Linked DNA regions of Homo sapiens: regions 1, 2, 3 and 5 are each linked to region 4. The links come from fine-mapping of genetic effects on gene expression. A gene starts in region 4. Each other region holds a variant in brackets. All regions are shown on one strand. Distances are from middle to middle.

Region 1 (5,000 bases), 32 kb after region 4:
TCCCTCCATTTTTTTTTTTTTTTTTTTTTTGCCATATCCACAATCTCATCTGCACTGAAAACTTGTTCAGGTAGATATTCTTTCTCCTCAATGATTTTTTTTTTTTTTTTTGAGATAGAGTCTTTCTGTGTCACCCAGGCTAGAGTGCCATGGCACGAGTTGGCTCACTGCAACCTCCGCCTCCTGGTTCGAGTGATTTTTTTGCCTCATCTTCTCAAGTAGCTGGGATTACAGGCACACACCACCATGCCTGGCTAATTTTTTTGTGTGTGCGTATTTTCAGTACAGTTGGGGTTTCACCATGTTGGGCAGGCTGGTCTCGAATTCCTGGCCTCATGTGATCTGCCTACATTGGCCTCCCAAAGTGCTGGAATTATAGGTGTGAGCCACTGCACTTAGCCCTCAATGATTTTCTTAACAGTGTCCAGGAATTTATCTGCTGCCTCTTGGTTGGTAAGGGCTGCTTATTCTCTTATATTGACATTTTTAAAGGCAAATCTCTTTCTAAAATTATCAAACCATACTTCGCTGGCATTAAATGCTCCAGCTTTAGTTCCTTCACCTTCCTTATGCTTTGTTATGTAAGGACTTTGTTTTTTCACTAATCATATTAGAGTCTATGGGTATGCCTTTCTTATAGCAGTCCTGCATCCACGTAAAAGCTGTATTTTCAATACAAGATTAAAGGGTATTTCAGCTTTTGATTCCAAAATGGTAATGTAGAAACAAGCTTGCTTCACTCTCCCCAACAGAAAACCAAAAACAAATATACAGCTCTGAGATCATAACCAGAAATATCCCAGAGCCAAAATATCAACATGAGAGAGTTTCTGGGGCCACAGCGAAGTTAAAAAAATAAAAATAAATAAACTTTAAGCAGATGGTAATATACTCAGACTTCCACATCTGCAGTACCCCTCCTTCCATTCTTCCCAGCACAAAACAGAAAGATATCCCCCTCAAAAAAGTGAAATTGAGGTGGACAACCAGTTTCTCCAACATTTTGGTTTCCCTGTCAGGAGACCTCTCCTTGCCTTAACCTATGGGAAGCATCATGAGCACCTGAAGGGAGAAATATTCCCGAGAACAGGCAGAGACAAAGAGGGGAGTTAAGACTGCCATTTACAGCCCTGGAAACTATGCTGTTTCACTCAGCCAAAGGAGGCACCAAAACAGAGCAGCTTTTCTGCATTGCCACATTGTAGGGGATTCATCCTACAAGTCCCCTGGGCACAAACCTCTAGACAGCCTTCCCAAATTACCAGTGCATCCCCTTTGGGACCTCCCCTATTTGGAAAGGACAGTGCTATAATCGTTTACTGGAGCCAAAGTGAACCTGGGCTTAAGGCACCACCTAGAGCCAAAAAGGAGGCTGTGACCTAGCAGTAAAGAAACTTCAAGCAAACATATCCAATAAAAACCAAAACAAGCCAGACAGAGGAGAAATACATAACCGATCTTCCAATGCAAAGACATAGATGTAGGTCCACAAGAAACAACAGCAAACAGAAACATGAACTCTCCAAATAGACAAAGCAAAGAAACCAGTAACTGACCCTAATGAGATGGTGATATGTGAGCTATCTGATGAATTCAAAATAGCAGTTTTAAGGAAATTCAGTGATCTCCAAGATGACACAGAAAGGCAATTCAGAAATTTATCAGAGGATTTTAACAAAGATATTGAAATAATTTTTTAAAAACAGAAATCTTGGAACTGAGAAATACATTTGTCATACTGAAAAATTCATTAGAGGCTTTCAACAGCAGAATAGATCAAGTCGAGGAAACACTCGGTGAACTTGAATACAGGCTATTTGAAAACACACAGACAAAGGAGAAAAAAGAATGAAAAGCAATGATTGCCTACAAGATACAGAAAACTACCTCAAAAGGCCAAATCTAAGAATTATTGGTGATGAAGGGGAAGTTGAACAATAGCAAAGGTTAGAAAGCTTATTCAAAGAAATAATAACAGAAACTTTCCAAACTTGAGAAAGACATAAATATTCAGATACAGGAAGCTCAGGGAATACAGAACAGGTTTGACCCAGATAAAACTACCCCAAGGCACATAATAATCAAACTCTCAAATGTCAAGGACAACAGAAAATTCTAAAAGCAGCAAAAGAAAAGCAAATAACATATAAAGGAGCTCCAGTTTGTCTGGCAACAGACTTCTCAGTGAAAACCATACAGGCCAAGAGGGAGTGAAACGACATTTTCAAAGTGCTAAAAGAAAAAAAAACTGCTATCCAAGAGTACCGTATTCAGCAAAGTTATTCTTCAAATATGAAAAAGAGAGGGAAAAAAAGAGTTTTTGTTTGGGATGATGAAAAAGTTCTAAAAATAAATAATAACATTTTTGCAACATTGTTCATGCATATGATGCCACTGAAGTGAATAGTTAATAATTGTTAAAATTAGAATTTTATATTATGAATATTATACCACAAAAAAACTAACAAAATAAAAAACGAATGAAGGAGAGATAAAGACCTTTCTAGACAAACGAAAGCTGAGAAAATTCACTACCACCAGACCTGTCTCTTAAAAAATGCTAAAGGGAGTTTTTCAATCTGAAAAAAAAGTTAACATGCAGAAACAACAACATTCGAAGGTATAAAACCCGCTGGTAAAATTAAATACATGGACAAACCCAGAATACTCTAATACTGTAATTGTGGTGTGCAATCTACTCATAACTGT[A/G]GTACGAAGCCCCAAAGACAAATCTATATAAAAAAGCTACTGCAACCTGTTAAGAGATAGGTAATATAAAAATGTGTAAATGAGATAACTAAAAGTCAAATGTGGAAGGGATGGAGTTAAAGCATAGTTTTTTTCATTTTTTTGTTTCTATTCTTTATGATCCAAGATAAGTTATGATCTCTTTAAAATAACTTTTTATATCTATATTTCTTGTAAGCCTCATGGTAACCACAATGCAAAAACCTGTAATAGATTCACTAAAAATAAAAAGCAACAAATTAAAACATACTACCAGAGAAAATCTCTTAACCACAAAGGAAGACAGTAAGAAAAGAAGCAAGGAGTTACAAAACAATCAGAAAATAAGCAACGAAATGACAATAGTAAGTCCTTGCTTATCAATAATAACACTGAATATAAATGGTCTCAATTCTCCAATTAAAAGGCATAGAACAGCAGAGTAGATTTTTTTTTAAAAAAGACCTAAATATGTACTGCCTACAAGAACCCACTTCACCTATAAAGACATATATAGACAGAATGGGAAGGGGTAAAAAAAGATGCTCCATGCAACTGGAAACCAAAAGAAGACCAGGAGGAGGTATACTTAGATAAAATAGACTACAAATCAAAGACTGTAAAAAGGGACAAAGAAGGTCACTATATAATTATAAAGGGGTCAATCCAGCAAGAGGATATAACAATTACAAATATATATGCAACCCAACGCTGGAGCTCCCAAGTATATAAAGCAAACATTAATAGATCTCAAGGGAGAGACAGACTGAAATACAATAGTAACAAGGGACTTTAATACTTCACTCTCAGTAATGAATGGATCTTCCAGACAGAAAACTAACAAAGAAATAGCAGAGTTAAACTACACACAAGACCTAATAGGTCTAACTGACATTCACAGAATATGTTACCTACCTGCTGTGGAATACACATTCTTTTCATTAGCACACAGAACATTCTTAAGAATAGACCATATCTTAGGCCATAAAACAAGTCTGAACAAATGCAAAAAAGTAGAAATCATATCAAGTATCTTTTCTGACCACAATGGAATAAAACCAGAAATCAACAATAAGAGGAAACTCATTCAGGAGCATGTTGTTTAATTTCTATGTGTTTGTATAGTTTCTGAATTAAATTATGGCCAATGGATCAATGAAGAAATTAAGAAGGAAATTTAAACACTTCTTGAAACAAATGAAAATGGAAATACAACATGCCAAAATCTATGGGATATGGAAAAAGCAGTACTAAAGGGAAAGCTTATAACAACAAACATTTATATTTTAAAAAGTAGACGTCCAATAAATAACTTAATGATGCGGCTCAAGGAACCAGAAAAGCAAGAATAAACCAAACCCAAGATTAGTAGCAGGAAAGAAATAATAAATATCAGAACAGAAATAAATGACATTGAGACTAAAAACAGTACAGAAGATCAATGAAACAAAAAGTTGGGTTTTTTTGAAAAGACAAACAAAATCAATAAACCTTTGGCTAGACTAAAAAAAAAAGAGAGAGAGAAGACCAGATTAAATGACATTAGAAACAAAAAAAGAGACATAACCACTAGGACCACAGAAATACAATGAATCATTATGTAACATTATGAACAACTATACACCAAGAAATTGGAAAACCTAGAAGAAATGGTTAAAATCCTGAACACATACAACCTACCAAGATTAAACCATGAAAATAATAGAAAACTCAGTAAACCAATAATGTGTAACAAGACTGAAGCTGTAATAAAATGTCTCCCATAAAAGAAAAGCCCAGGACTTGATGGTTTTACTGCTGAATTCTACCAAACATTTAGAAAAGAACTAATACCAATTTTACTCAAACTCTTCCAAAAAAATTGAAGATAAGGAAATACTTCTAAACTTATTCTACAAAGCCACCATTACCCTGATACTAAAACCAGACAAGGATACAACAACAAAAAAAAAACTACAGGCCAATATCACTGATGAACATAGGTGCAAAAATTCTCAACAAAATAGTAGCAAACTGAATTTGACAACACATTAAAAAGATCATTCATTATGATCAAGTGGGATTCATCCCAGGGATGGAAGGATGGTTCAACATATGCAAATCCATAAACGGGATACATCACATTAACAGAAGCAAAAACTAAAACCATATGATTATTTAAATAGATGCCAAAAAAAGCATTCAATGAAATTCACCATCCCTTTATGATAAAAGTCCTCATCAAATTAGCTATAGAAAAAACATACCTCAAAATAATAAAGACCATATATGAC
Region 2 (5,000 bases), 23 kb after region 4:
GTCATTTTACAGAAGAGGAAAATGAAGGCAAGGGAAGTTCAAGTTCAACAACTTGCCCAAAATCATACAGCTTTAAAGCTGCAAAGGCCAAAACTAAAGCTCAGTCTCCTATTTTTAATACCATGCTTCCTGGATGAAGGACCTCGAACCCTGGGCTAAAGATTTGAGATGAGCAAGTCAAAACCACAGTAAGTTACCACCTCACACATATTAAAATGGTTATTATCAAAAAGACAAGAGATAGCAAGTGTTAGAAAAAGTGTAGAGAAAAGGGAACCTTCACACACTGCTGATGGGAATGTAAATTTGTATAACCATTATGGAAAGCAGTATGGAGATTCCTCAAAAACTTAAAAATAGAACTACCATATGATCCACCAATTCCTCTTTTGGGTATATACCCAAAGGAAATGAAATTAGCACCTCATAGTGCTAAATCTGCACTCCCATGTTCACTGCAGCATTATTCACAAAATAGCCAAGATATGGAAACAACCTAACTGTCCATCAGTGGATGAACGGATAAAGAAAGTGTGGTACAATTCTTGTGTATACAATGAAGTATTATTCAACCTTAAAAAAAAAAGGAGATATCCCCATTTGTGACACTTATAAACCTACAGACACTACGCTCAGTGAAATAAGCCAGACACAGAAAGAAAAATATGGCATGATCTCACTTGTATGTAGGATATTTAAAAAGTCCAATACATAGAAATAGAGAGTAGAACGGTCGTTACTAGGGGCAGAGATTGGGAGAAAATGGAGACATGTAGGTCAAAGGGTATAAACTTGCTGTTAGGTAGGAGGAATAAGTCTAGAGATCTAAAGGACTGCATGAGGACTAGAGTTTAATAATATTGTTTTGTATGCTAAAAATTTGTTAATATAGATTTTAGAAGCTTCTGCCACAAATACACACAAAAAGGTAACCATGCAAGGTGGTGGATGTGTAAATTTGCCTGACTGCAGTAATCATTTCACTAGCTCTATGTATATCAAAACACCATGTTGTATACTTTAAATATATGTAATCATAATAAATAAATAAGTAAATAAACAAAAGAGATGAGTTGTACCAGGTAACAAGGACTCATAATAAATCACTGCCTAGGGAAGCACCATGGTGAAGGGAGTGTTTGAGGAAGGACAATGATGTGTAAACTGGACAGGAACAGTCTGAAGACTGGATATTGTTAGAGCATCAGCAGCAGCCTATGGACATGTGGTTAATTAGAGCCTGGACCAGGTTGCTGGCTGTGAAATTAGACAGGAAAGAACCACAGAGAAAAATGACATTCCTCACTGTCACATCACACTCTCTCCCATTTCCTTTTCAGGTTCTTTAGAACTTCTTTCATTTACCTTAAAGGCTTATTTGCAGACACAGCTCAGCACAAACTCTAACTAGCCTGTAAATCATATATATATATATTTTGGCTAGGCCATGCTTCTACATTCTTAAAAGCCAATGCTACAGTGGGAATGAAAAGGAATCAGACCCAGTATAAATTGTGAATGGCTCTGAACTTAAGGCTTTCTACAAATGATGAAGTATTTAAATAGGAAGTTAAGAAAACCGAGAGGCCCAAGAGTGTCTCATCCAGTAGTACCATTCTTTCTTCCCTACACCTCCTGGCACCTTGGATACTCCCTCAAGCCTTCAGTTTCCTTTGCTCCCTATGGGAAAGCCACTGGATTCATTCAGGACAAGATGCGAGGCATCACACTCAGACTATGAAGACTGAAAGGAAACTTGGAGTAACCCAGCCTAAGCACTCAGGAACCCAGAAACACAAATGGCTGAAGGTGAAAACAAGACTGTAACCCACATTTCCCAATGCCCTCTGGGAGCACGATTTTTCTCCTTTCCTTTTCCTGAAATGCAATCTGAAACAAAATTCTAAAATAAAAATATTTTTTTCTGCTCAAAACTGTGCACATGCG[T/C]ATTCTCTCTCTCTCTCTCTCTCTAGAATAGAGTCAATAGGAGATAAAACCTTCAGAATTCAAATGTCACCTTAAATACAGTGATTAAATAGCATTCTCTAAGCAGAATTACTTTAAAAGGGAGAAAGATGAAACATTTTTATTTTCTTTATGTTAGATCTGCCATCAAAAGTAATTGATAGACGTGTGCTGTTTTTTTTTTAGCATATCATTGTTACTTCCCTCAAAACTGTTATGTTACTGCTTGTACTCATTTTATTCTCCTTTCAGGACTAAATCTGCTGAAAGAAAAAGACTACATCTTGTTTATCTTTGCATTCCTCATGGGTCCTTGTATTGTTTTTTGCACATTGTTCTATATAAGGTTTTGGCACAGCGCTTACTCTTCTTAAAAATTGGTGGAATAACAGGGCATGAAATGACTTTCATCCAATATTTTTGCAACTTTTACCTTCACTACTTAAAAGAAAAAAGTCAAATAGCAAAATGAATATGCCATGTCAATTGGAGAATTTAACAATCTGTGTTTTAAAAGAAAACAGCTTAGGAAGCTCTGGTCTCAGACATGCTATTCTGAAATCAAAATCACATAGATGAGGCTGAAGAGTTGAATCGTCTTCTGAATCAAATTAAAAATTCAACCCATAGTAATTTTGGCAGAATGAAAACGTCAAATTGCATTTCAGCCAATTTCTCTTCCTTTTCTATAGTCGATGAGTTGTTTTGGGGCACAAGAAAAAATTTCAAGGATTGTGTTTATTTACAATATTTTCAGGAAAAAAAATGCCTGCTTGCTTTCCTGTAAAAGTGAGAGGAGCAGAGAAGCTTCCTAGACTGTTCTCAGATGCTTCAGCTAAAAAGTAAAATAACAGTGCCAATAATTGAAAATAAGGAGAAAAATTATGCCAAACACTTGGCACCAGCTGCAGCAATTAAGTAAGCACCTGCTTTATGCTTCATCTGCCACCATCCCCTCCCTCTTCATTTAGGCTGGTTTCTGGTTTTTTTGAGAATATATGCACCTCAGTGTACAAGCTCGCAGAGCTGTCTTTTTCCTTCTTTTTATTTCATTCCTTTCCCTTTGGCTATCATTAACTCAGGCATGACAGGAAGATCCAGACAAGGACAAGGTAGTAAAGACACCAATATTTCTAAAATCTAGGGCTTTAGAGAATGTTGGGGCAGATGTAACCATAGTAATCACTGGTATGAGAGCACTGATGTCCTTACTAAACAGCAGGTCACACCATCCCAAGGAGACCTTGCAAATGAAGATGCAGATTAGATGTCTGGAAGCAAGATTTTTATTAGCTTAGTCCTGAACCTTAGCTATGCAACAAAAGCCAGCTCTGCAGAGATTTAGGCTCTCAAAGAGACACCATCAAGGAGTTCGAGACTGTTAGGAGCATAGGGCTTAGCATGAGCATCAAATAAGGTATAAAAGAGGTGCTTTGAAAAGTTGAAAGAATTATGCAAATGTAAGGCAGGTATTAATATTAAAGATGTTTATCATAACCCATCTAAGAGAAACAAAATCATAAGTGTATTCATCCACTGGAAATGAATTTGCACTTTTTGGAATCCTGGGCTACCATTTCCTCTTTTCCCTTTTATCCTGTCTATAAAAGCTGGCTAATGATGCACCTACCTCAGAGGCAACTGTGAGGCTTAAATGAGATTATGTGCATGAAGCACCTTGCTCCATGCCTTGTATAGAAAAGATACTTAATAAATGTGAATTGCATTTCAAGGGGAAAATCAAGTACATTATCCTGAGAATTCTTCATACTTGCAGTTCATCAATAGATGCTTCACATTAAATTACATGTTTCCAGGAGAGAAAAATGGAGTGGTCACCCTCAACAGTACACAATCAGTGGAGCTGGCTGCTTCTCACATGGAGAAAACAGATGTGAAACAAAGGCATCCATCCTTCAATTTGTAGGTGTCAAAGTAGCAATTCCCCTCTTCTCATACTGGTAACTACTGCTTTGTTCTTCTGCAGAAAACATTTTAAAGCTGCTTTTGAATTCCCTCTATCATAGCCAGATACCAGCAAAAGAGAGACTCTGAAAACAGAGCAAGAGCTTCTAGGTACAGACCAGAAGCTCCTTGAGGTTAGGGACCATTCTACCTGGTTCCCTGCCACACTCCAGCACTTTCAAGAGTGCCCAGCAGATGACAAGCCCTTAGTATGCACTTACTGAATCATTTCAGTACATCAGAAATTTGAGGAAGTAAATGAGACACAAAATTAAAGGTGCTTTATTTCATCAATTTGATTGGCATGTCCTGCTTCATCTACCTTTGGTGCAAAATAATGTCTCATTTGTTTTAGTGCTTGATGTGGTTTGGATGTGTCCCCACCAAAATCTCATCTTGAATTGTAGCTCCCAAAATTTCCAGGTGTTGTGGAAGGGACCCTGTGGGAGACAATTAAATCATGGGGGCGATTTCCCCCATACTGTTCTCATGGTAGTGAATAAGTGCCACAAGATCTGACGGTTTTGTAAGGGGAAACCCCTTTCACTTGGCTCTCATTCTGTGTCTTGCCTGCTGCCATGTAAGACGTGCCTTTTGCCTTCCACCATGATTGTGAGGGCTCCCTAGACATGTGGAACTATGAGTCCATTAAACCTCTTTTTCTTTATAAATTACCCAGTCTCGGGTATGTCTTTATCAGTAGCGTGAAAACAGACTAATATGGTGCTCAAACCATAATAACTGAAGTTCATCTTATTGATCAGGGGAACCTATCCTACTCCTATAGGGTACTTTTCCCATGAAGTACCCTGATAGAAGTACCAGGAGCAGATAGTCCAAAGTGATTAACTTATTCATTGTTAATTAGTTAATATTACCTCATAGAAGAAACCAGAAAGTCTGGTGAGTCCACCAAAGGGCTCTGTTGTCTGCTGTTTGTGTTGCTTTACATCAGTGCAAAAACCATAAAGTTCAGTTATCTAGAATGAGACCCTATTTGTTTTAATATTACTACAGTATCAAGACAGATAACTATTGACAGTCCTAAAAGATTCTTAGAGATTTTTAGG
Region 3 (5,000 bases), 46 kb after region 4:
CTGTGTCCATGTTCTCATGGTTCAGCTCCCACTTATAAGTGAGAACATGCAGTATTTGGTTTTCTGTTCCTGTGTTAGTTTGCTGAAGATAATGGCTTCCAGCTCCATCCATGTCCCTGCAAAGGGCATCTCATGTTCTTTTCACAGTGATCCTGTAAGAGAAACACTAGTATTATTTCCATGCTATATATGAGGAAACTGAGGCTGAGAGACAATGAAAACTTGCCCAAGGTCACTCAGCTGCTAAATAGCAAAGCCAAGACTTGAGTTGTAATCTTCACATTAGGCTGCATCCTAGTGTTTTGGTGTGACCCAAAGACTCCTCCAGGTATCCCCAGAGAGCCTCCAGAGCCAGAGCATGGTCAGCCTCAGTCGTTTCCTTGTTCTAAACATCATATAAGCAAACAATACCATGCAGACTTTTTTTTTTTTTTTTTTTGACAGAGTCTCTCTCTGTCACCCAGTCTGGAGTGCAGTAATGCAATCTCGACTCACTGCAGCCTCTGCCTCCCGGTTTCAAGTGATTCTCCTGCCTCGGCCTCCTGAGTAGCTGGGATAACAGGCGCCTGCCACCACACCTGGCTAATTTTTGTATTTTCAGTAGAGACGGGGTTTTGTCATGTTGGCCAGGCTGGTCTCGAACTCCTGACCTCAGGTGATCCGCTCACCTCAGCCTCTCAAAGTGCTGGATTACAAGTGTGAGCCACCGCGCCTGGCCCCATGCAAATACTTCACACAATATGTGCTTCACATAGACAAGAATTCAAGAACTGTCTATAAGTTTATATACATCAAAAATAAGTCACATGAAAAATATTTTTGGAAACAGACAGAAGTCAGTTTGAAGCCAAAATATATTGTCTTGGACGAGTCTAACCTCTGTAAGCTTCAGTGGGGATAATGCCTTGCTCACACGGCAGGTGAAATGATCAACAGAGACAATGTATGGGAAGCACCTGGCCTGCAGGGGGCCCAGCAAGCATGGGTTCCTTTGTCTTCTTTGCTGCACTGCTGGGAGCAATAGGGGCAGTGTTGAATGTGAGCCAGCAGTAGGCTGGTGCAGAAGCCTTGTGCTTCTCTGCTGTTAACACCCATTTCTGCCCTGGACCCTCAGGGCACTAATCCTATGGTCATAACCAGTTTCCTCATTGCTTTGCTATTTTCTGCGGTCACATTCCCAGCTTCTTGGGTCATCATTCCTACAGAAACCAATGGGTGTAACACAGGCCATAAGTCACGGGCAGCAATGGAAAGCTCTGAGTTCTTCCAGAACGACAGTATAAAGCCAAACAAAACAAAACAGATCCCTTCTAAAGGGATAAGACAAAAGCAAAAAGGCTGAAATCCAACATCATGAAGTTCAAGTTTCCAAAGCATGAACAGATTAGTTGCATGATTTTCCTCTTAACTTCAGAATCTTAAACCAAAAAACTAAAACAAAACAAAAGCAGTTAATAACTTCCTCGAAAGAATGAAGAAGTATCTTTAAAAAAAAAAAAAAAGGAACTGCAGACCAGCCTGGCCAACATAGTGAAACCCCGTCTCTACTAAAAATACTATATATATATATAATATATATATTAGCCAGGCATGGTGGTGGAGGCCTGTAGTCCTAGCTACTCGGGAGGCTAAGGCAGGAGAATCGCTTGAACCCAGGAGGCGGAGGTTGCAGTGAGTTGAAATCACACCACTGCACTCCAGCCTCGGTGACACAGTGAGACTCTGTCTCAAAAATAAAAATAAATAAATAAATAAATAAATAAAAACCTGCTAAGAACTATCTTGGGAGTGATTCAGCCATAAAGAAGAAGAGGAAGATAGAAGAGTAATCATATTTTCAACTTTATATTCCAATAACCATGCCCCGCTCTAGGGCAATACCTCTTAGAGCCACTGCTTTTCCTTAGTACCACCCCCAAATATATTTTCTGGCTAGATTATTTCCACCTTGCCCATGACTTAGAATTATCCTTTTTTTTTAATTCCCTAACAAACTTCTTTTCTTGAGTAGATTTCTATTCAAGTCTAGCCAGTAAAAAGGGTGGCCTTCCATGACCTTGCCTAAATTTTTGGTGCTTAGTTCTGATAAAATTCAAATATATTTCCAGAAAAAAATGCTAAGTCATTAAGATCATACCTTATTAAAAATATTCTGGGATAATTTTATTCTGCATTCTTTTTTTTTTCTTTTTTTTTTTTTTTTTTGAGATGGAGTCTCGCTCTCTGGCCCAGGCTGGAGTGCAGTGGCACGATCTCAGCTTACTGCAACCTCCGCCTCCCGGGTTCACGCCATTTTCCTGCCTCAGCCTCCTGAGTAGCTGGAACTACAGGCACCCGCCACCATGCCCAGCTAATTTTTTGTATTTTTAGTAGAGACGGGGTTTCACTGTGTTAGCCAGGATGGTCTCGATCTCCTGACCTTGTGATCC[G/A]CCTACCTCAGCCTCCCAAAGTGCTGGGATTACAGGCATGAGCCACCATGCCCGGCCTGATTCTGCATTCTTTTGGCTTAAACTTTACCATGTGCATTTTGGTTAACTGCAGTACATGTACCTAGCATGCCCCGAATTGGAAAACAAACTCTTTCTAAGCCTCTGTGTTTAAAAATTATTTCTCCTTTCTGGGGAGAGAAATTAGGAAGCTATAGAATGTTAGTGCTATAAAGATAAAGAAACTGAGGCCCAAGGAAATGAAATGCCTTGTTCAAGCCCACAGAGCCTTTCTACAGTTCTTCCCAGAGGATATCTGTCAATTTATTTTGGATTCCTGTATGAAGAGCATTCAGCTTCCCCGAGTTAATGGATTATTGACTGATGTTCAGAAAAATGCATAAAGAGGTTCGCAGTGTTTCCACTGTGAGAAACTCTTTTACTCCTTCTCAGTGGGGGTGCTAAGAGCATTTGGGGCAGGACAATTCTTCATGCAGAGGTCCTAAGAGTTTCAGGATGTTAGCATTTCCAGTCCAACAATGGTAAGTCTAGCATTTCCAGTCCACCTAATGGGAATTCTAGGATCACAACAAAGAGAATCCTCACTCTCCTCCCTACCCTGTCTTCCCCTGGGTCTTCTATAATACTCTCCTCAAAAATAATAATTCTTTTTTTTTTTTCAAAGTTTCTTGAGCATCCAGAAATAGCCACGAGTGATGTTTATTCATTCACTAGCTTCAGGCATATGGTGCAAGATGAAGCAGGAGGCAACTAGGCCCAGTGTTTTCAGAACTCCTCAGGACACCCAAACAGCTATTTGCTACTTACTTTGGGAGGTGCAAGAACCTGCTTAACACTTTCCTTGTCTTTATGGTAATCACTCCCCAGTAGGAGTGCTGGCAGGGGCTGCTTACATGACAGGATCTCCAGAGATTACCCAGCCCAAGAACTTCCTTTGAAAATCAGAGCCTAAATGTGAAGCGTTGAGCCCAAGGTCAAACAGCTCATCTATTGCAGAACCAGATCTTGGCATAGTCTTTCTTCTAGTCCCAGAGGCAGCCTTCCCTTATGCGACAGCTTTTCCAAGGGTTATGCTGGTTATGTAACTAGACTACTCAGGGTTCCAACACCAATCGCCTCATAGGAGTTCTGTACTCAGGCAGTTATTGCCTGCTCCTGTGTGAATAAGATCAGATTACCTTTGCTCCAGGAAATCACTCCGATCCAAGGAGATGGTGCTGTGGAGCGATTAAGAGCATGTGACACTAATGTCTGAATGCCTCACTTTCAAGCCAGCACAGCCTCTTATTCTTGGGCAAGCTGCCTAGCCTCTCCATGCCTCAGTTTGCTCATATGAAAAATGGGGGCAAATTAACCAAACTATGTTACAATAATTAAATGAGGTAATTATTCTAATGCACCTACCGCAGGGTCTGGCACATTATAAGGATGTGTTAAAGGTTGGTTATTGTTGTTGTCGTCATTGTCATTGTCATCATCATCATGAATTACATTGTTTTTCCTTTGCTGGGAATTGAACCAGGGAGAGAAAGCAGGGCTGGTTCATTTTCTCCCACCAGCATGAGCCAGAGGAGGCGCTTCCCTTGGGGACATAAGCAATAAACTCCAATCAATGGTTAATTCAGGTTCTGCTTGAGTTTAAAGGCAGGTATAGAAATGTATAAATTCAGCATACTTAACTTTGGTAATAAAAATTAAGAAAAACTCTATTTTTTAAGAGCAAAGTACCAGCCCACATCTCTAAACTAACTTTTCTCTTTTATAAGACCATTTTAACTGTTTCTGCTAGGTAATGATCATTTAATCAAGGGCATAAAAAGATAAATAAATTGTGGGTACTGCCTTCAAGGAGGCTTTCTTAAATATTTATTTTTTAATTGACAAATAATAAGTGTACATATGCATGGGGCACATAGCGATGTTTTGATACATCAGGGTAATCAGCATATCCATCATCTCAGATATTTATCATTTCTTTGTGTTGGGAACATTCAATATCCTCTTTCTAGCTATTTGAAACTCTATTATTGTTAACTATTGTCATTCTACAGTGGTATAGAACGCTAGAACTTATTCCTCCTATCTAGTTGTAATTTTATGTCCTTTAACAAAACTTTCTGTATGCCCTCCACCTCCCCCTACCCTTCCCAGCCTCTAGTATCCTCTGTTCTACTTTTTACTCCTATGAGATCAACTTTTTTAAGCTTCCACGTATGAATGAGAACATGTGGTGTTTAACTCTCTGTTTTTGGCTTATTTCCGTTAACATAACGTCCTCCAGTTCCAACATCCATGTTGCCATGAATGGCAGGATTTCACTGTTTTTTAATGGCTAAATAGTATTCCATGGTGTGTATATGCTACATTTTCTCTATCTATTCATCTGTTGTTGGACATCTAACTTGATTCCATATCTTGATTATTGCGAATAGTGCTGCAGTAAACATGGGAGTGCGGAGGTCTCTACAAGGAGGCTTTTAAAGGCAGAACTTGCCGCCTTTCTTCCCATTCGCTTGGGTGTCATTCCGTGACAGGTTTGGAATCTTGATAAAC
Region 4 (5,000 bases):
TCAGAGTAGTAATAATCACTGTGTGTTTATCACCAACTTTGTTCTAGACATTGTGTTAAATACTTTACAAACAACACTTCTAATTCTGCAAGTTAGAAAGTTATCTTCATTTAGGAATGAAGTAATCAAAGTTAAGTAAATCTATTTACAAATCCAGTAAGTGGCTAATCTGCTGTACTTGATTCCTGCGCCCACAATTTCAATTACTCCAAATTTCCTCTCTGGAATATGATTTACTATATTCCAGGAGAATTACAGTATTTGTGAACAGTACATCATCAATTGATGAAAATTTTCCTGTAATCTTTTTCAATATATGTAGAGATTTCCATTTTCTTTTGAGTTTCTTTAAGGTAAACCACCTTGCCCTTTGGATTAGTCAGCTTTCTCTTGTTTCATTTTATTTATCCAGTTATTTTTGGAGAGTCTCGCTCTATTGCTCAGGCTGGAGTGCTGTGGCGCCTTGATGGCTCACATCCTCAACCTCCTGGGCTCAATCAATCCTCCCACCTCAGCCTCTCCAAGTAGCTGAGACTACAGGAGTGCATAATCACACCTGGCAAACTTAAAAAAATTTTTTTTTTGTAGATAAGGGGTTTCGCCATGTTGCCCACGCCGGTCTCAAACTCCTGGGCTTGAGCAATCCGTCCACCTCAGCATCCCAAAATGCTGGGACTTCATTTTAGAACTGAAATTCTTAGAAATGCTGGAAGACCTCAGTTGCCACTCAATTGTATTGGAAGAAGCTCCTAGTTCCAGCTTTGCACTGAATTTGGAACACACACTAAGAAGGAAGGATGGACTATTTGATGTCATACATAACTAATTTACATGGCTGGAAGGAACAGTCCAGGTTAAATGATATATCAAATTGTTAAAACTAATATAACGACAGCAAGTGCAGCTGGAAAAAGAGGAAAGAACTCTCTAAACTTCATTGCATTGGATCTAGGGTAAACGACATGTTTCTAGTCCTGGCTACCTTGAATAAGTCATTTCATCTCCCTGGACTTCATCTATTAAATAAGATAGCTACATGAAATAATCTTTAAGTTGTTTAAATCTTTAAATAACCTTTAAAGTCTGTAATTCCATTTTCAAACATAGGTGTGTGGGTATATACCTCTCTTCTCTGCCCCACTAAAATCCTAGATAGGAAGATGCTAGTTAAGGTTGGAGATGAAGGTTTGAAAGCCCGAGTTCCAACTCTACCCTCCCTTACATCTGTTATTGCCTTACACACCTGGATTTTACACCCTTTTTTAGGTCAACTCCAGCTGTCTTACCACATCTGTTCAAGCCATATTGTCCTCTCACTCTTTGTCCTATGTCCTCACGTTCTTTACATCTTGATGGGGGACAGCTGTAGTGTGTTTAGAGATATATTCTAGGATCAGCCTACTAGATTTCACTGCTTGGCTCTGCACTTTCCATTTGTCTTTCTTTGGGCCTGTTCCTTAACCTCTCCAAGCCTCAGTGTCCTCATTTATAAAAAGAGGCTAGTAAGATGGCTGACCTCATACGAATGGAGATTAAAAGAGTTGCCTCATCTAAAGGGTTTTAACGGTGTCTTGTACAGTGAAACCCAGTAAATGTTACATCATCATCATCATCTTTTCCCTCGCCCCAGGACACGACTTCCTATTCTTGCTCCCACTCTCCCATTTCTTTATTCGCTGGCCGCTCCATCCGACCCATACCTATCTTAACTCACTGGTTGAACTAAAAAGCTCTCACTCACTTCAGGCCTACGAATCAACTGACAAGAGCGGGGAGAAACTCAAAAACGGAGATGCCAGGTGTCTCCAGAATCTGTCATCCAAAAAAAAAAAAACCAAACCAAAACAAAAAAAAACCCGACGATCAGCTAGTACTATATGAAAAACAAGTTTTGAGGTCCTTCTCCCTGATGCCAAATATACCCACAGCCCTCCTCACACACCCTTTCCCTTCCTCCCTGTGTGCCAAGTTCGCCCCCGGAGTCGTCGTTTCCTTCTTTCCCGGCAGCTGCAGCGACGACCCACGGCCTGAGAGAGCCGCTGCAGCACAGGTCCCGTGCGCCCTGCCGCACAGCCTCGCCACAACCACCACCGCCGCCGCCGCCGCCGCCGCCGCCCGCAACCCGCCTCTCCCTACGGGTCCCGACTGGGCACCACTTCCGGTCCGACACGGCCACGTGTTACATCTAAATGGCACCGTCCCCCGAGTGCGCCGACCTTGTGCTACAGCCAGAACAGCTCCGGGAAACAAGGGCAGCGGGAGAAACGGCCCGGAAAGGGACGAAGAGGCTTCCAGCTTTCGCCAAGTCGCGGCTCCCAGTTTTTCCCTGGGCCTCCTTCCTTTCCCCTCTAGGGAATCCGGCATCTAGTACCGCTGGCACTGCTTGCTGCTTAGCCCACGCCTCTCATTTGAAAATATATTTTGTTTTACCGTGCCTATCACCTGCCGTCCTCTCTCTAGTAACCTTAGTAACGCCTCCTCGGAGGATCCTCTCAGAGCAGCTCATCAGCGCTTCAGATCAGCCTCTCCCTCCTTCCCCCAGTAAAACAGTTCTCATAATTAGAACAAAAATATCTCTCCATCGTTTCGCCACCCACACAATAGATACCATTCCAAAAGCAGTGCTGATGGCAGAAGAGCTCATCGAATTTGTGAGGAAAGAAAGAATAGGAGGAGAGATTTCTCAGGGTTGAGGATTCTCTGCCGACAAGCGACCTGGCACATGCGAAAAGGGATCCAAAATAGAATCTTAAAAAGAAGAAGAAAAAAGGCAGGAAAAGTTGGATTATTTTAAGCGCCACTAGGTTCTTCCTGTGCTTTGCGTTTTCTACATCACGACGCCCCACTCTTTCCACTCTAGTTGTTTGGTTCATGTCTTGTCTCTCGCTGGCATTAGCAGCTATTCATTTTTTGCTTCCTCCTCAGTACCCAAAACGGTGCCTTGGAAATCACAAGTGCTAATTAAATATTTGTTGAATTGAACTGGCACGCTTCTGGCGTTTACAGTGGGCCCTTTTTAGAGAAAACCTTGGCACTTAATGCACAGTCATTTTACATCTTTTGCCCTAAACAGTAGATAACGATATCCTTATCAGTTCAAGTCTCTAACCCTGACAATAAATTATAGATACATTCTGCTTTATCCATTGCACTGAATGTGATCTTAAAAGGCTATAAGATAAATTAAATTATTGTAAATTAACTTATTCCAAAATGCAATCAGATTATACTTCAATAAAAACTTTTACTAAAAAAAGTGAAAGCAATAGGAAGCCTTACAATTTGACGTTATAGTATATGGAATTATTTTGTCAAGCAGTTTCTTTTTTGGTAAATATATTAAATATATAATTATTTTATTGTTAATAAAACTAAACAGACCTATACCTCATATCCAATTTCCTTTCTATCCATATTTGACATTTATTAGCATTTTTCTACCATCCCTAGCATCTTCTTGTTTGTTGCTTCATTTTACTCTTCCAACAACCCTGTGCTGCTGTGTTATTAGCCTCATTTTACACATAAGGAAGAGAGGCACAGAACCTAAAGCCACAAACCTGGTGAGGGTCGAGAACTGGGTAGTACTTGTGTCTGTCTCTCTATAAGACCCAGTTTCTCTCTCTCTCTTTCTCTCTTTTCTCTCTCTCTCTCTGTCTCTCTCTCCCCCACTTCATGGATTGTGTGGGAAGTAGCTTCTGGTTCCAACATTTCTAAGAATTTCAGATCTGTTGCTACCAGTCCATTCAGGCAAAGATTTCCATTTTTTACTTTGAGACAGCAGTTACTGAAAAAGAGTAAATAGAAAATATATATTAGGCATAGATTGCATGATCTGAACTAGAAATAATACAGGATAGAAAACCCACCTGCTTAGGAAATCTCAAGTTAACAATTATAGCTCAACAACAATAAAAAACACAAACATTTATTCAGTGCCTACTCTGGGCAGGACACTGCCCTAGACATCAGGGTTACAGGTATGTAACAGCAACTCCTTATCCTTGAAGGTTGACTAGTAAGACAGACAATGTGTGGAATAACTACAACAATATATTCTATCATATACCAAGTGTCTAGTACATGCATGAACCTGTTGTTCCTAATTTATAAAATATGTTATTTCAATGGATATGAAAATTTAAATGTGCACCAATGCTATGTAACTCAAAGCAACAAAATACTATATTAAGTATGTGGTCAGGATGAGGGAAGTTGGGTGATGATGGTGGTGATAATACCAAGTAATAATTCTGATATAAACTATGACTGTGCATTCTTTTTTATTCAAGACCGAGTCTCACTCTGTCACCCAGGCTGGAGTGTAGTGGCGTGATCTCAGCTCACTCCAACCCCTGCCTCCTGGGTTCGAGCAATTCTCCTGTCTCAGCCTCCCGAGTAGCTGGGACTAGAGGCGCACACTACGCCCGGCTAATTTTTGTATTTTTTTACTAGAGATGGGGTTTCACCATGTTGGTCAGGCTGGTCTCGAACTCCTGACCTCAGGTGATCCACCCACCTTGGTCTCCCAAAGTGCTGGACTTACAGGCGTAAGCCACCGCGCCCAACAAATGTGCATTCTTTCTTTTCTTTTCTTTTTTTTTTTTTTGAGACAGGGTCTCACTTCATCACCCAGGCTGAAGTATAGTGGTGCCATCTCAGCTCAACCTCCACCTCCCGGGTTCAAGCCATTCTCCTGCTTCAGCCTTCCCAGTAGCTGGGACTACAGGTGTGAGCCACCATGCCTGGCTAATTTTTGTATTTTTAGTAGAGGCAGGGTTTCACCATGTTGGCCAGGCTGGTCTCGAACTCCTGACCTCAAGTGATCCCGCCTTGGCCTCCTAAAGTGCTGGGATTACAGGGGTGAGCCACTGCGCCTGGCTGAATATGCATTCTTCTAATACTGTGTGTCTTTGAGAAGATTGCATTTTCCATGTTCTTTTTATAATATGATGCTGACACTTCTCTAACATAAGCTAATACCTATGGCCACAGCTTTG
Region 5 (5,000 bases), 39 kb after region 4:
AGTACTTCCAGCATCACTAGTGGAACTTTGTATGGGTCCTATGGTGTTATTCAAGGTTGATAGCACTGTACTAAACATGATGAAAAAATGCGCACGAATCTCAGGAAATCATTTTTACTGCGATATGCAATTTACTAGAGAAGCGAACGGCTCACATGGAGATGATAGTGTCACACGGTGTTTTAAGTGAATACTCCCAACATTCGGGCTCACTGCAATAGCAGCAGAAGTTGGCTACAAGACTATTACAGTAGCATAGTATTACTACGGTTCATTTTATGCAATTATGACTTAATACCACATCTTTATGTTTTTGGGTGTTGTTTGTTTGTTTTGAAACAGGGTCTCGTTCTGTCGCCTAGGGTGGAATGCAGTGGTGCGATCATGGCTCACTGTAGCCTTGAACTCCTGGGTTCAAGCAATCCTCCTGTCTCAGCCTCCCAAGCAGCTAGGACCACAGGCATGTGCCACCATGCTTGGCTGCATTTCTGTTGACTGCAAATGGCACCATGTATGGTCCATAAGTGTTTGTGTAAGATTTGATAAATTTTAACTTTGTATAATAGATTTGTGTATGTTTTGCACTAGTATATGATAAAATAGATTCATATCTACATATATTTTATGCATTCATAAGCTCATCACACTATAATACCTGCCCCCTCATGGACTCTTATGACTTTGTGGCTCTGCCAATAATTATTTAAACCCTTTTCAAGTTTTGGCCCTATTCTACCTTGATAATTCCCTTCGTTCTGATGATTGTACTCTAGGAACAATAGCTCCCACCCAAATCACTGTCTGGAGTATAACTTCCAATTCAGAATTCCATTCCAGAAGATAAAGGGTCCTAGGACTTATTGTGGCCAGAGTTGTGGAAACTATCACAACTGTCACTATTTGGGGAGGTTTTACTTACCGTGAAATCACACTACAAGAACTTACCATCTCCTTTTAAATAATCTTAGAAAAAACTGGCACAAGTCTATCAGCACTAGAAAAGTCTTTATACTCACTAGCAGAAATGGTTTTTGATAATAGATGAGTTCTTGATTACCTCCACCTGAACAAGGAGGAGTCTGTGCTGTCATCAACAAAATCTGTTGTCTGGAGAAGTGGAAACTAATGTCCCAGTAAATTTTCAAACAAGCCAAATGGTTATACACACTTTCCCAAAGTAACCAAGACTGGGCTTCTCCCATTCCTTGGACCTTTTTTCCTTGTCATTTTTCTTTTAATATTTGCTCCCTGCATTTTTAATGCTCTCATTAAGTTTGTATCTTCCAGAATACAACGATTCCACCTACAGATGACTATGCAGTCTCAATACTGGCCTGCAACAGCAACTTCCATTTATACGGGGCCTCTTGATAGAATCCAGTCCCCACCCCTCGTGACTGAGTTTTTCATGACCCTTCATTTCCTTTATGACACAGAGCAAAAAAGAGAAAAACGCAACTTATCCCCTCAAAGCCCCCTTTCAGGAGGAAGTAGCCAGACAGACTCATCACCCCTCTTCACTGGACCATTTTCCCTTTCTTGAGACCCCAGGAGGCAGCAGGTAGACATGAACATGGGGGAATATAAATATAAAGGGTCAAAGATATGACCAAGATATTTGTCAGGGAGCAAATGAGGAGAGGAAAATCACCTGGTGACCATCGAGCAGTCTCCAGAGACAAAAACTCCTTATCTGAGGAATTTAGAAGTAATTAAACTTCCCTAGTATCTAAAGTCAGCATCTAGATCTCTTTCAAAAATGTCATAACTAGAATTTCTATACACCTCCAGAATGCATGCATGTCAAAACTCATTGTGCAACCCTTGCTGACAGTAAGGCACCAAAATGTCTACAGATGTAATCATGTATCATGACCTACCTGGCTAATATGGTCAAAATTACCCTTAAGCTCCCGCCTTAAGGTCCATAAATGCTCCTAAGGAAAATCCACCACTGTGTGCTCAGTCCTCTCTCACTGAGGTGCCCCGCTGCACCCTTTTGCAGCATTCTTTCTTTCTAAAACTTTCCTTTTTCAAATCTATACTGTTTTTGGTAAATTCTTCTTACCAACCCACACACTGACCACTTCCCAATACAGGGGCTCTGACACTGCCTGGCAAATGTGTTCAAACAACAAGGAAAGCAAAGGAAGTAGACTGAACATGTGTATTAGTCTGCTCAGGTCGCCATAACGAAATATCACAGACTGGGTGGCATAAACAACAGAAATATATTTTCTCACTGTTCTGGAGACTGGAAGTCCAGGATCAACGTGTTGGCAGGGTTGGTTTTTCCTGAGGTCTCTTGCAGACAGTCACTCTCTGTCTGTGTCCCCACATGGCCTTTCCCCTCTGTGCATGTGCACCTCTGGTGTCTCTTCCATTTTTCTTTTCTTTTCTTTCTTCTTCTTTTTTTTTTTTTTTTTTTTTTAGACAAGGTCTGGCTCTGTTGCCCAGGCTGCAGTGCAGAGGCACATCTTGGCTCACTGCAATCTCCGCCACCCCCAGGCTCAAGCCATCCACCCACCTCAGCCTCCCAAGTAGCTGGACTACAGGTGCACACCACCATGCCAGGCTAATTTTTGT[AT/A]TTTTTTATAGAGATGGGGTTTCACTATGTTGCCCAACTGGCCTCAAACTCATGAGCTCAAGCCATCTGCTTGCCTTGGCATCCCAAAGTGCTGGGATTACAGGTGTGAGCCACCTCGCCGGGCCCCCTTTTTCCTAAGGACAGAAATCCTACTGCATTAGGGCTCCACCCTTTTTTACCTCATTTGACCTTAATTACTTTCTAAAGGCGCTATCGCCAAATATAGTCACATTGGAGGTTAAGGCTTCAACATGAATTTTGGGGGGATAAAATTCAGTCCTTGACAACATTTATTTAGCATTTTCTTTGTACTAAGAGATTTCAAATACAGAACCATCTTTAATGCTCACTCCAACCTGAGGAGATGGGGACCATTTTACAGACATGGTTAGGGAGATTAAGTAACCTGCTAAAGATCACCACTACCCAGGTGGCAAGTGGCAAGACTGTCGTCTGACTCTGGGGAGACTATATGATAGCCAGAGCTAAAAGTAGGTCATTCGTGGAGTGGTTGGGAAGGTTTCATAACCTCTACAACTTCCTCATATTTACTGTTTGTCATACAGTAGTTCCCTGTTATCTGCAGTTTCACTTTTTGAAGTTTCAGTTACCCTCGGTGAACTGAGGTCCAAAAATATTAAATGGAAAGTTCTAAAAAATAAATAATTTGTAAGTTTTAAATTAAGCACCATTCTGAGTAGCATGATGAAATCTTGCACCCTCCCACTCCACCCTCGGATGTGAATAATCCTTTTATCCAGTGTATCCACAATGTATACGCTACCAATCCGTTAGTCACTTAGTAGCCGTCTCAGTTATCAGATCAAAAAGAGTATGCTGCCCTGGTCCCAGCTACTCAGGAGGCTGAGGCTGGAGGATCCCTTGAGCCTAGGAGTTTGAGGCTGCAATCAGCTACCATCATGCCTGTGAATAGCTACTGCACTCCAGCCTGGGCAACATAGCAAGACCCTGTCTCAAAAACAAACGAACAAAAAATCAAAACTTAGTATAATATATACATAAACTGTAGTGTTGAAACTCTCCTTTGTCAGGTCTTGTCTTTTTACTCATATTCTTATTTTTTAAATATACTTGCTGCCATTAATTTGGAGTTTTCTATTTTAATTTATTTTAGACTGATTTACTGTCATGGAATTATTCTTCAACTTACTATTTTTTTTATGTAATTATAATGTCTGCAGTAATTTTGCAATATTATATCATCAATACCCATATAAGCACAATTAAATAGGGTTCAGTATTATCCATGGTTTCAGGCATCCACCGGGGTCTTGAACTACTATAGCCCTCTGACCCTTAAAATAAAATGGTCCTGTGGGATTGACTTCCAGGGCAGTAACATCTGGAAAAGCCATGGAGACCAAGTCCCAGGTACAGCGAGTGTTGTAAGAATGAGGATTTCAAGGACTGAGGAGAGTGGTGGAAACCAACCACCAAGCTACCCTAAACGCCTGGCAGCTGCAAGATGGAAGAAAAGAGGATGCAGGCAGCTGGCTCGTGACTGGGATTCATGAGAGAAAAGCCATACAGGTCCTGGTAGGCTGGGAGGGGCCACACTCATCCCCTCACTCCCTTCCTCATGCCCTCCCTCACTGCCTTATTCAATAGTTATTGAGCTCCTCCTGTGGCCAGCACTACCAGGTACTGGAGGATTTAGCACCCCTATCAAGGATTCCTTTCTTTATTCTCCCTAAAGGCCCCTTTCTGGGAACAACAACGTCTCCCTCTACTGCCCCTGCAAAAAACAAAATAAAATTGCCCTTAAGAAATGATCAATTAACTTTCACATTTTCTTGGGTTCAAATAATAGCTCTGCCTTTGGTGAAGTTTATGACCTATTTCTTTCTCCTCTTTACCCTCAGTTTCCTTATCGGGAAAAATGGACATATCAACAATATCAACCTCAGAGAAATGAACAACACATTGTAATATACATCGAAAGATTCTTAGCACAATGTTCAGCACCTAACCAAGGCCCAGTAAGGCAAGATACCTTTTACTTCTTGTACTTTTTTTCTTCTTTATTATTATTCTCCTTGTTCCCTGTTTTCTTCCTAAAAACTATGCCTCAAAACCCTTGGTCCTCTTTGTGAGAATTCAGAGGCAAAGGAGGGAGGAGGTTTCCCAGATCTCACTGAGGGAAGAGGCTGAGGTGGGAAGCTGCCCACCACCGTGGTCACCTGACATGCACAGGGAAGTCAGGGCCCTGGGAGGCTTTCTGGAGAGATCAAGGCAGAGTCGGGGCCCTTTAGGTTTAGTTCAAACCGTAGTCAGGATTCTGTGCTGTTGTTGCTGCTCCGCCAGCCTGCACATCACCCTCACCGCACTTGTTTTCTCTTGTTTAATTGCTCATCTCCTCCACTAGAAGGCAGGAACTCTGTGGGTTTAGCTT

Direction of the effects. Positions count from the first base shown, and alleles are read on the strand shown. Sizes are in standard deviations (SD) of each study's normalised expression. Not every link is listed here.
In carriers of allele G in region 3, the expression in prostate of the gene that starts at base 2,160 in region 4 tends to be higher than with A alone (moderate effect, 0.45 SD a copy in GTEx).

What was found. PIP is the estimated chance that this variant, and not a neighbour inherited with it, causes the effect.
Region 1: its variant is the best candidate, but not a certain one, in a credible set for the expression of FRA10AC1 in sigmoid colon (GTEx, PIP 0.56).
Region 2: its variant is the best candidate, but not a certain one, in a credible set for the expression of FRA10AC1 in hippocampus (GTEx, PIP 0.73).
Region 3: its variant is the best candidate, but not a certain one, in a credible set for the expression of FRA10AC1 in prostate (GTEx, PIP 0.79).
Region 5: its variant is the best candidate, but not a certain one, in a credible set for the expression of FRA10AC1 in prefrontal cortex (CommonMind, PIP 0.90).

Annotation. Positions count from the first base shown.
Region 1 is chr10:93,732,223-93,737,222 of GRCh38, forward strand. No RefSeq gene overlaps it. Among named protein-coding and RNA genes, the nearest start is that of LGI1, 23 kb to the right of the region's middle. The variant A/G (reference allele first, on the strand shown) is at 2,710.
Region 2 is chr10:93,723,016-93,728,015 of GRCh38, forward strand. No RefSeq gene overlaps it. Among named protein-coding and RNA genes, the nearest start is that of FRA10AC1, 23 kb to the left of the region's middle. The variant T/C (reference allele first, on the strand shown) is at 1,948.
Region 3 is chr10:93,745,956-93,750,955 of GRCh38, forward strand. LOC101927013 (a long non-coding RNA gene) reads right to left here. Exons shown (of 3, transcript XR_246160.5): 2 at 3,852-4,029; 3 at 1-152. Among named protein-coding and RNA genes, the nearest start is that of LGI1, 9.5 kb to the right of the region's middle. RefSeq lists enhancers at 49-800, 3,147-4,129. The variant G/A (reference allele first, on the strand shown) is at 2,430.
Region 4 is chr10:93,700,433-93,705,432 of GRCh38, forward strand. FRA10AC1 (FRA10A associated CGG repeat 1) reads right to left here and starts at 2,160. Exons shown (of 14, transcript NM_145246.5): 1 at 1,943-2,160. RefSeq lists an enhancer at 2,149-2,448.
Region 5 is chr10:93,739,734-93,744,733 of GRCh38, forward strand. No RefSeq gene overlaps it. Among named protein-coding and RNA genes, the nearest start is that of LGI1, 16 kb to the right of the region's middle. The variant AT/A (reference allele first, on the strand shown) is at 2,587.